2 linked regions of the Homo sapiens genome follow. The protein of the gene in region 2 binds, or shares a complex with, the protein of the main gene of each other region. Each region holds a gene or a part of one and is shown on either strand. Other genes may lie near its edges.

Region 1 (6,522 bases), on a different chromosome or scaffold from region 2:
ACATTTTCTAATCAAGTTACTTGGGGTTTCCATTCTATGGAGTTGTGGGATTCAATTTTGGATACTATCCCTTATCAGATATGTGGCTTGCAAATATTTTCTTTTATTCTGTAAATTGGCTTTACATTTTTGTTGATTGTTTCCTTTGCTGTGCAATAGCCACTTTGTTTCATGTAATCCCACTTTTCTATTTTTAGACAAGTTTTTGTTACCTGTCTTTGTTTCAATCCCTTTGGAATCATATCTAAGAAATTCTTGCCAAGCCCAATGTCAAAAAGCTTTTTTCCTATTTTCTTCTATGAGTTTCATAGTTTCAGGTCTCAAGTTTAAATCTTTAATGGATTTTGAGTTGATTTTTGCATATGGGGTAAGGTTAGAGTCCAATTTCATTTTTTACATGCGAATATCCAGTTTTCCCAATGCCATTTATTGGAGAGACTATCCTTTCCCCATTATGTATTTTAGTACCTTTGTAGAAGATCAGTTGACTATATATGAAGGGGTTTATTTCTGGGCTCTCTATTCTGTTCCATTAGTCTACATATTTGTTTTTATGCCCCTACCATACTGCCTCAATTACTGAAGTATTTTAAATACATTTGGAAACCAAAAATTGTGATGCCTCCACCTTTATATTTCTTTTTTAAGATTGGTTTTGGTTATTCAGGGTCTTTTTTGATTCCAATATGAATTTTAGGATTGTTTCTTCTGTTTCTGTGAAAACAAAACAAAAATGCCATTGGGATTTTAGTAGGGATTACATTGAATCTATAGATCACCTTGGGTAGTATGGATATATTAACATGGGATGTGTTTCTGTTTATTTGTAACTTTTAAAGTTTATTTCATCAGTGGTTTACAGTTTTGGTGTGCCAGTTTTTCACTTCCTTGGTTAAATTTATTCCTAAGCATTATATATTTTTTAATGCTAGTGTAAATGAAAATGTTTTCTTGATTTCTTTCTGGATAGTACATAGTTAATGAATAGAAATGCAACACATTTTTACATAGTAATTTTGTATCTTGCAACTTTACTGAATTTAATAGTTCTAGTAGTTGTTTTTGTTGTTGTTGTTGTTGTTGTTGTTTTGAGGACTCTCGCTCTGTTGCCCAGGCTGAAGTGCAGTGGCGCAATCTCAGCTCACTGCAACCTCTGCCTCCCAGGTTCAAGCAATTCTCGTGCCTCAGCCTCCTGAGTAGCTGGAATTACAGGCGTGCACTACCACGTCTGGCTAATTTTTGTGTTTTTAGTAGAGACGAGGTTTCAACACATTGGCCAGGCTGGCCTCGAACTCCTGACCTCAGGTGATGCACCTGCCTCAGCCTCCCAAAGTGCTGTGATTACAGGCATGAGCCACCACACCCGGCCTTGTGGTAGTTTGTTAACAAAATCTTCAGGAGTTTCTACATGTAAGATTGTGCCATCAGTGAATAGAGATAATTTTGCTTCTGCCTTTTTAATTTAATTGCCTTTTATTTTCATTTCTTGACTAATTGCTTTGGCTAGGATTTCCAGTACCATCTTGAACAGAAGTGGTGAGAGTGGGCATCCTTGCCTTTTCCCAGATCTTAGAAAAAAATCTTTTCAGTTTATTTTATATGATATTAGCTGTAAGCTTTTCATATATGGACTTTAATGTGTTAAGTTCCTTTTATACTTAATTTACTGAGAGTTATCATGAAAGGGAGTTAAATTTTGTCACATGCTTTTTCTATATTTTTGAGATAATCATGTGATTTTTATCTCCATTCTGTTAATGTGGTGTATCACATTGATTGATTTCTGTATGTTGAGCCATCCTTGCATGCCAGGGACACATATTATTTGGTCATGGAATATGATCCTTTTAAAGTGCTATAAATTTGATTTGCTATTATTTTGTTGGGGAATTTTGCATCTATGTTCATCAGGAATATTGGCCTAAAGTTTTGTTTTCTTGTGGTGCCTTTGTCCAGCTTTGGTATCCAGATGATGTTGACCTTATAAAATAAAACTGGAAGTGTTCCCTCTTCTATTTTTTAGAAGCATTTCAGAAGGATTGGTATTAATTCTTCTTTAAATCTTTGGTAGAATTCACCTGTGAAGTCATTTGGTCCTGGGCTTTTCTTCGTTGGGCAGTTTTTGATTACTGATTAAGTCTCCAAACAGGGTCTCACTATGTTACCCAGGCTGGTCTCAAACTCCTAGCCCCAAGTGATCCTCCCACCTTGGCCTCTCAAAGCATTGGGATTACAGGTACAAATCACTGCACACAGCCTCTCAGTCTCCTTTTTGTTATTGGTCTGTTTAACCTTTCTAGTTCTTCTTGGTTCAGTCTTGATGGGTTATATGGTTCTTGAAATTTCCCTTTTTTTTCTAGATTGTCCAATTTTATGGTGTATGATTGCTCTATGTGTTTTTCATTTTTGTGAGATCTGTTGTAATGTCTCCACTTTCATTTCTGATTTTATTTGACTCCTCTCTCTTTTTTCTTACTCTAAGTATTTGTCAATTTTATTTAACTTTTCAAAAAAACAAGTCTTAGTTTCCTCAATTTCTTCTAATTTTTTTCTTTTCTATTTTAGTTATTTCTGTGCTAATCTGTATTATTTCCTCCCTTCTGCTAACTTTGGGCTTATTCTCCACTCTTTTTATAAATCACTAACATCTAATACAGTTACCATTATCAGTCTGATATAATTAGACATCCAATCCTAGGTTTAATGTTAGCATTTCTGTATGCTCAGGAAATTATTCTAAACTGATATCCTGGTATTATTTCAGATTTTCTCAACAACTAATTTTACCTTCTACTGAAATGCTCTCCATCTTGATTGTAAATATAGTTAGTATAATTAATTGCTTTTCTTCTTAAGAGACTAACCTTTATATGACAATTACTGACATTGGATTAAGTTCCACCTAGGATAGGATAGGCAGGGGGTGGATGTCATCTTACCTTAAAAATCTGTTTCACATGAATATAACTGCACCGAATATCTAATTTTTCAAGTAACCTCTGAGTTTTTTCTAGGTTAATTTTTCCACCTCTGAAGTCATCCTGAATCTTTGACAAAAACCATGTAGAAGCACAAAAAAGTTAAGGAAATTCTCACAGAAAGTCATTGAATATTTAAAATTCCTAAAGAAACATTTGATTTACTGTATTATTTTTATTTTTAAAGAATATGTTTAAAGTAAATTATAGTATAATTGTATGATAAATATTTTTTAAAAAACAAAATTAAGTAGTTACTATGCTATGGTAAAGGTATGAAAGGGCATAGCACAGTAAAAATACAAAAAAAAGAATTAAAGTTAAAATTTGAGAATTGAAGTCATTACTTAGAACATACATTAAAACATTATAACAATCTATTGCCTGAAGGCATGAAGTTGGAAGGCAGCTAGACTTCAAGATCGCCTCTCACCTGACCTCTCTGTTTTAGTTCTCTCTTCCAGAAAGGTGAGCAAATTAACCCTGAATCTTAAGGAAAGTGGAAGCATTAGATGAATTCCTAATATGCCACCGAACACAGTTTCTGCTACTTAGTGTTCAATAAATAGTAACCATGACTGATAAAGTTATTATTACTACATTAGTCCAATGCCCAGCTACACACACACTCAAGACAGTACCATCAAAAAGCATCAGAAATACCATGGTGAGTGTATATTTGGTATGAAAAACGAAAAAAATTTTTAAAAGCTTACTTATCATAGATAAACTACAAAAACTAGGACACTTCCATTTGAAAAACTAAGATCGAAATGAGATAATGACAATTATCACTAAAATTATAAAAGGTATAGGTAAAAATTGTGCAAAACTACTAAGTTTCAGATTGTTAGAACGAATTAATGAGATCTCCTTAAATTTAATAGTTATGACTTAATCCAGCAAAGCTCATGTTCTTGTAAGAAAAAGATACCAGAATGCAGGGAAAGTTAGAAAAGCTCAGAACAAACAGGGAAAAGCAGTTCAACTTAAATGAAGAGGACTTAAATTCAGAACTCCTCGAAAAGAATAACAGCATCAAGTAAAGAGGATAAGTAGGAGAAAGAAGAAGAGGAGCAGAAAGAAGCTCTCAATGGATATCTCATTTCCATAGTTTCATGACCTGTAGAGCCGTTTCTCCTCACTTAGAAGTCTTTCCCCAGTAGGTGCTGTCATGGGTTCCAAATACAATTAACTCTGCCCCTTTGCAGAAAATAATTTCTTGATACTCATCAGCTGTTACCACTTTTCTAGGGAGAAAGCAGAGAACACACAGTGGTTTTTTTTGCCTTCGTTCTTTGAAGCTAGCTCACACTTAACCATAGAAACAGTATGCAAGATGTGGTACCTGCACTACCCTGCCCTTGAAACTGTTTGGCTTCTTACGTTCTGACCACCTCCAAACCCACAATATTTGAAAACACAGCTTTCCCTGATGTCTGGCATTTTTCCATGAACTGCCATTGTATCTCCTTTTATTTTTTACTACTTTGTTTAAACCCCTCAAACCTTTCATCATAATATGCTTCCAGTGGGTTTGGGCAGCTACTCTGAGAGCCTGAGTATAAATCAACACCATTGTGATTCCTGAAGTTGCAAAGTGCTGTCACTCTTGAAACTTTGGGCTGCTTCTCTAGATCGTTGACAACATATAATGCACACAGAGACACACCACTTTCGAAGAAGACTGTTCAGGAGGCTAAGTTCTTAAAATCTTCAAAAGAGGTATAGCTGGTTGGCTGGGCACCACACTGTCAGGTGACTGTCATTTTTTCCTTTTGGTCTGAATTCCCATTGTGATATCATCAGAGGTTCCACACTTCACAAGGAAAGCTTCTTATGACCTCATCAGGAGGCTCAGACCTTGCCAGACTGCCTGCTTTCATGGATAGACATAAAAACCTTCAGCTTGAATGTTAACACCTTGATGGGAAAGGTGGCTCATGGAATGTTTTCTTATCCTTTGAACACTCCTCATTTCAGAAGCTTTGCTTCTGTTGCAACCAAACATGACACTTAGCGTGCTGAGCAGGAAGGACAAGGAAAGAGTAATTCGCAGACTGTTATTACAGGCCCCTCCAGGGGAATTTGTAAATGCCTTTGATGATCTCTGTCTGCTTATCCGTGATGAAAAACTTATGCACCACCAAGGTGAGTGTGCAGGCCACCAACACTGCCAAAAATATTCTGTACCACTCTGCATCGATGGAAATCCAGTACTCTTGTCTCACCACAATGTAATGGGCGACTACCGATTTTTTGACCATCAAAGCAAACTTTCTTTCAAATATGACCTGCTTCAAAATCAGCTGAAAGACATCCAAAGTCATGGTATCATTCAGAATGAGGCAGAATACCTGAGAGTTGTTCTTCTGTGCGCCTTAAAACTGTATGTGAATGACCACTATCCAAAAGGAAATTGCAACATGCTGAGAAAAACTGTCAAAAGTAAGGAGTACTTGATAGCTTGCATTGAAGATCACAACTATGAAACAGGAGAGTGCTGGAACGGACTTTGGAAATCTAAATGGATTTTCCAAGTTAACCCATTTCTAACCCAAGTAACGGGAAGAATATTTGTGCAAGCTCACTTCTTCAGGTGTGTCAACCTTCATATTGAAATATCCAAGGACCTGAAAGAAAGCTTGGAAATAGTTAACCAAGCTCAACTGGCTCTAAGTTTTGCAAGGCTTGTGGAAGAGCAAGAGAACAAATTTCAAGCTGCAGTCTTGGAAGAATTACAGGAGTTATCCAATGAAGCCCTGAGAAAAATTCTACGAAGGGATCTTCCAGTGACCCGCACTCTTATTGACTGGCACAGGATACTCTCTGACTTGAATCTGGTGATGTATCCTAAATTAGGATATGTCATTTATTCAAGAAGTGTGTTGTGCAACTGGATAATATAAAGAATTGCTCCTGGTAACTATCTTGATTTGACTTGTTTGTGTTTCTTGGGAATGGTTATTTTCCTAAAATTGAGCAATCTGTAGAGATGTCTCTCACTTAGCCAATGCAAATTTAAATGGGAAAAGTGTAGCAAGTAATTTTACTTGGGGAATATTTATGAACAAGGCAAGAAAGTGTAAAGTAACTGTGTTTCATGGTGGTGACCATCATAAAGACCAAGACATTTGTTAGAAACTAAAATAGTTTTATAGAATCTGGGATTCCAGAAATAGTATAGAGGTGGCCAGGGTTAAGGCTGTGTGTGGGTGTGTACGTGTGTGTGTGTGTGTGTGTGTGTGTGTGTGAGAGAGAGAGAGAGAGAGAGAGAGAGACTTTTGACTGTTTCGAACTGAAAAGGTATACAAATGAATATCACTCCACAAATGATATTTTACATAACTCAATTCAGTCCTAGACCATCCACGAGATGGGGAATTTCAATAAAAGACATTAGGTTTGGATTTTCCACAAAACCAACAGATATCAAAAATCTAGCTCAGATGAAGGACTATTAGTAATTTTGGCTCCTCTTCCACTCTACTTTCTTCCCCTCAAGAATTGGGGTTACTCAAAATCCCTGGCTTGTCTGATAACT
Region 2 (4,561 bases):
AAAAAGATGTTGCATCAGACCCAGGGACCTCAAACACATGGGCTGGCCAGGTTGTGGAGCCCGCTGATTGGCCACGGACAGATGGGGGGATGGTCTCGGCAGGGACTTTGAGATCTGCTTCAGATCTTCCCTGGGGCAGTTTGGAGGGTAGAAGGCAGACTCTGTGGCTCTGTGCAGCCTTGGCTGAGTTACTGCAACTGAACCTCGGCTGCCTCACATTTGTACTAGGCACAGTGGGAAGGCGGCGGGAGGTGCGTGCTGCGGCGCCAGAACAGTGTTTGCTGGTGCTTCTGCCCTCCAACGGCAGAGGGCGGAAAGGGACAGGGACTCTGCACCTCATCACATACCTGGTGTTTTCAGGGCGGCGGGGCTGGGGACGGGACACTTCCTTGCTGCCGTGAGCGGGGCCCACACGCGTCCCAGCTTGGAGCCAGCGCACGGCCACGGCCACACGCGCTCGGAAAGCGAGGCCGGCGAGAAGGAACACAGAAGGCCAGCGCTAACTGCGCCCCAGTTTCTTTTTATTGATTTCTTTTCTTTTCTTTTTTTAAGTATGGAGGCTCAAGTATAAGATGTAGATTTTTTTCTTAAGCTTTACAAAAAAACAAAATAAAACAAAAACCTCCTTTTGCATTCCATAGAAATTGACAGAAAAGCACCTGGCCGGAAGAGCGGAACGGTCGGCGGCACCCCCCCCAGCCCCCACCCCGCGGCCTCCGTGGGACGGGAGAGTCTGCGCAGGACGGCACCGAGGGCCACCTCTGCTCCCAGAGCTGTCCCCTGTCCCCACGACCCCCAACCCCAAGCAACTCCCAAACACACACGGAATAAGATTTCCAGTTTTTCTTCTCTCTTTCACACACCACAGTTAGTTCATAAAATTTTTTTGTTTTACATTTTTTACACCAATGTACCAAAAAGGTGGGAGGGAAGGGAGGCTGGCAGACAGTGGATTTTATGCCTATAAATGGGGGGACAGGGAGGAAGACGGGGGGCCCGGGTGAACAAAAACCACACGGTCTCTATGGAAATGTGGAGAGAACTGAGAGCGAGGTGTGGCAGAAGCAGGCTCGGAGCCGGAGGAGGGTGGCTATCGGCTTTATTCTCAGGGAGAGATGGCGCTGTGCGGTCAATGATGCAGCTGTTATGTGACCTGTCGGGGAGGGAAGGGACGAGGGAAGGGAGCAGAAAACGAGTTTTCTAAGAAAGGAATCTAACGAGTGCACGGCGTGTCTGGTTAGCATGAAACAGAGGTTTAGCATTGCTGCTTTCTCTTCAAAGCCTCCACCAGGTCATTCTTCAGAGCTTCTTGTTTTGATTTGTCTGCAAAAGTCTGCACAGACCTGCAAGGGAGGAAAGGCGTTATCAGCAGATTGAACAGGGACTGGTGAGGCGGTGGAGGCCTGGGGGCCACCATGCCAGTGCCTGGCTGATTTGCTGCATGGACCCGCTTCCTGGGGTGAGGCTCTGGGTCACTGGGCTGGGCATCTGCCCCTCTCAGAAAGGGGCAAAGGGGTACATGGCCGAGACCTGCACCCTCTGCACCTTGCCAGGCCCTGTGGGGGTGGCATATGGCTTACATGGACAGGTGCTCATCTCTGCCCCTGGCCACCGGTGACCCGGCCATAGTCCCTAGAACCCTAAGTTCACTCCTCTGTGTGTAGGTCCCTATGTCACCCTAAGCCACAAGGTGGCTTCTGGGCTTCCAAACACAATGGAACAAAGCCCCTCTGCTTCAGAACAGCTACCCTGGGTTGCTGGCTGGGGACTCAGGCCAGGGGCTAAGAGGGGAGGACTCCGGGGCCATGCGGGTTCCTCTATAAAAGCTTCTCCCTTGCCCAGGCCCTGCCCAGCAGAAGAGCCTCATTCCTCATCCCACAAGTGCAAGGTGCAGCGTTATCCCACCCTTGGGAGTGGGTAAGAACCAGTGTCTCTGCGTGTCTGAGCACACTGTGTTTATGGCCCACGCAGCAGGTGCTTTCAGGCCTCTGCTGTGAGGCACCATCCGCTGTTAACTTGGCCCAGAAAACCCCTCAGCCCGGATTGCAAAGGGCGGCACAGGACAGCCAAGTGCCCCTGGGATCCCTGCTGTCAAATTCTGGATTTGTGGGGAAACGTTCAGGGCGACCGCATTCACGTATGTGTGGGGACGCTCATCAACAAAGCCAGAAACAATGAAGGCTTATGGAGATTTCACAGTTTACAAAACGCCTTTCACATATATTATCTCATTTAATTTTCACGGGCATCCTGGGGAAGTCTCAACTATCAACCCGGCCGGATGTGGTGGCTCAAGCCTGTAATCCCAGCACTTTGGGAGGCCAAGGCAGGAGGATCATTTAAGGCCAGGAGTTCAAGACCAGCCTGGGCAACATAGTGAGACCCCATCTCTACAACGACAACAACAAAAAGCGAAGTCAAGGCTTAAAAAAGAAAAAAGCTATCAACCCAATTTACAGATGAGGAAACTGAGGCTCAGAGGAATGCCCCCCTAGCAATTCTTTAATCATTTTGTCAAATTTACCCAACATATTGGTTAGGCAAAGACTTCCTAAATGTAGGTTTTATAACAGTTTAGAAGCAGTGGAAAGAGTGGGTAGAGGGCTGCTCAAGAAGAGTGCTACGGAGAGTGCACTCAGCCGGACTCTCACGTTTGATTCACACCAGCCATGGGAAGGAAGAATCAGAAAAATCAATCCCCAGAAGCAAAAATGGGCAAATGGAAGTGAAGCAGGGCCCAGGAGAAGCAACAGCACCCAGACTGAGTTCTGGCTACCGAATCCCTACAAGTCACAGGAAGAGCCCTCAAAATACTCAGCAGGTGCCATAAGACAAGACCTGGAAGCAAGCTGCATACAACTGAAAAAACTCCCAGGAGAAACGCAGACATTTGGTTCATGCTGGGGAAATACACGTTTCTGAGTATCTTCCCAGGACTGTCCCTGGCTCTGCGGCGGCCAAAGGCATCAGCCCCCACGGCCCCCAGGCTCCAAATCTCAGCCGATTCCCCAGGGGCTTCTTGCCAAGCTCACAGCGGGAGGTCAACATGGCCAGCGGGAGATGCGGCGGGCAAAGCAGCAGCGCACAGGACCTCTAGCCTGGGTGGTCACTGGCTCTTCTGGGAAGGAAGAGCCAAGCCCGCCAGGTCTTGGCTGGATCACACGAAGGAGAAAGTTCCAGAGCTAGAATCATGTTAGACACAGGAAGTTAGAAGTGAAATGGTGGAAGGCGGAAGGAGCAGGGGGCTTATTTAAGGGACAATGCTTGGGAAGGTCACGGCCAAGCAACCTCGAATCAGCGCTTGGAGACAGTGCTCGACTCTGTGGGAGGGAGGAGTCATCTTGAGCAGACCTGGCTGCCAGGGTTTCTACGCCAGGACGCCCCCAGTGGGCGGCCAGGGAACTGCACCATCACGGTGTATCTTAAAAAGAGTTTTTTCTCAATGCCATGATGGAAATGCCTGATGGCCACACTGTGAGGCTGACCCGAGTCGTGGGCCTTAAGTTGGCACACACAGACCAGACTGGTGCACTTAAGTCCCACGGCCTCGGAAAAGCAGCTCCACCTGGTTTTCTAAGTGCCTGACCCCACCTCCACCTTGGAAAGTCTGCTGCACCCCTTCTGGGGTGGGCCTTCAGTGCGCAGCCCCTGGACCTGGGCTCTGCAGCCCCAGTTGGCAGGGTTCCAAATGCCTTCTTTTTACAAACAAGTTTCCCTCCTACTCTCCAGGGATGCTGCCTCCTTCCCTACATCTGGATCTGTCACAAGCTCAAGTCATGGTTCTTGGCCATTACCAACAAGCAAGACTATTTTCCTTTCCATTAGCGAAACCTGTTTAAAGGAACAGCTGCAGCTCGTTAGGGGCGGAAGGTTATGCTGGTTGTGGCCGAGTCGGCACTGGGCGTCCAGGCAGCTCCAGCAGAGCATCTGGGCCAGCCAGGGTGGAGTCCAGCCCTGACTCTGCCCTCCAACCCCAGAGACTCAGAGATCAGAGAGTGAGGTCACCCCTTCCAAGCCAGCTAGCCCTGGACAGGCAATGTGCCGCTGAGCAGCGGGGAGGCTTATGTGGCTTCTGGGATCCCTGCACCAGCATCAGAGGCTCCTCTGAAGCATGGGGGGGTGGACGGCAGGCAGATCCCTGCCCTGGGGACAGTCAGGCCGGTGCACACAAGTGGCTGCTGCTGGAGAGGCAGCATCCGTCCCTTGGCCTGGGCTTCTTCAGAAGCAAAAGCCAAAAAATCAGCCGTCTTCCCCACACCCAGCCTCCACCCAGAGTGGAAAGCACACACACGTGATAGGTGCCGTGTTACATGGGGCCGAGGCTACACGGGAATGTGGCTGTGCACCGACCGGGAGCACACGTGGGGGTTAGTGGTGGTTTAAATGGCCGCGGAGCAGCAGCCGGACCGGCAGGGTCTCGGCGGGTTGGTGAGTCCTGTTTTAGTGGGGAGGGTCTCGCGGCTCTCAGGCAGGGTACCTGGATCGGCTTAATTATCAGGCTGGATGTAGATCTGGCGCTGGGTCAGCACTTGAGAGAGCTCCCTCTGCAACTGCTTAAACT

Evidence for each region.
Region 1: CAPZB (region 2) and CAPZA3 share a complex: the UniProt entries of both Homo sapiens proteins name them as parts of the WASH complex.

Annotation. Positions count from the first base shown.
Region 1 is NC_000012.12:18,733,282-18,739,803, forward strand, and holds CAPZA3 (F-actin-capping protein subunit alpha-3), read left to right. Parts: upstream 1-4,837; 5' UTR 4,838-4,987; coding exon 4,988-5,887; 3' UTR 5,888-5,907; downstream 5,908-6,522. Other genes in the region: PLCZ1 (1-phosphatidylinositol 4,5-bisphosphate phosphodiesterase zeta-1), read right to left, coding at 2,940-3,063, 4,080-4,090. UniProt on the Homo sapiens protein: F-actin-capping proteins bind in a Ca(2+)-independent manner to the fast growing ends of actin filaments (barbed end) thereby blocking the exchange of subunits at these ends.
Region 2 is NC_000001.11:19,338,275-19,342,835, forward strand, and holds the end of CAPZB (F-actin-capping protein subunit beta), read right to left. Parts: coding exon of another isoform or gene 4,488-4,561; exon of another isoform or gene 4,478-4,487; intron 1,344-4,477; coding exon 1,256-1,343; 3' UTR 501-1,255; downstream 1-500. UniProt on the Homo sapiens protein: F-actin-capping proteins bind in a Ca(2+)-independent manner to the fast growing ends of actin filaments (barbed end) thereby blocking the exchange of subunits at these ends.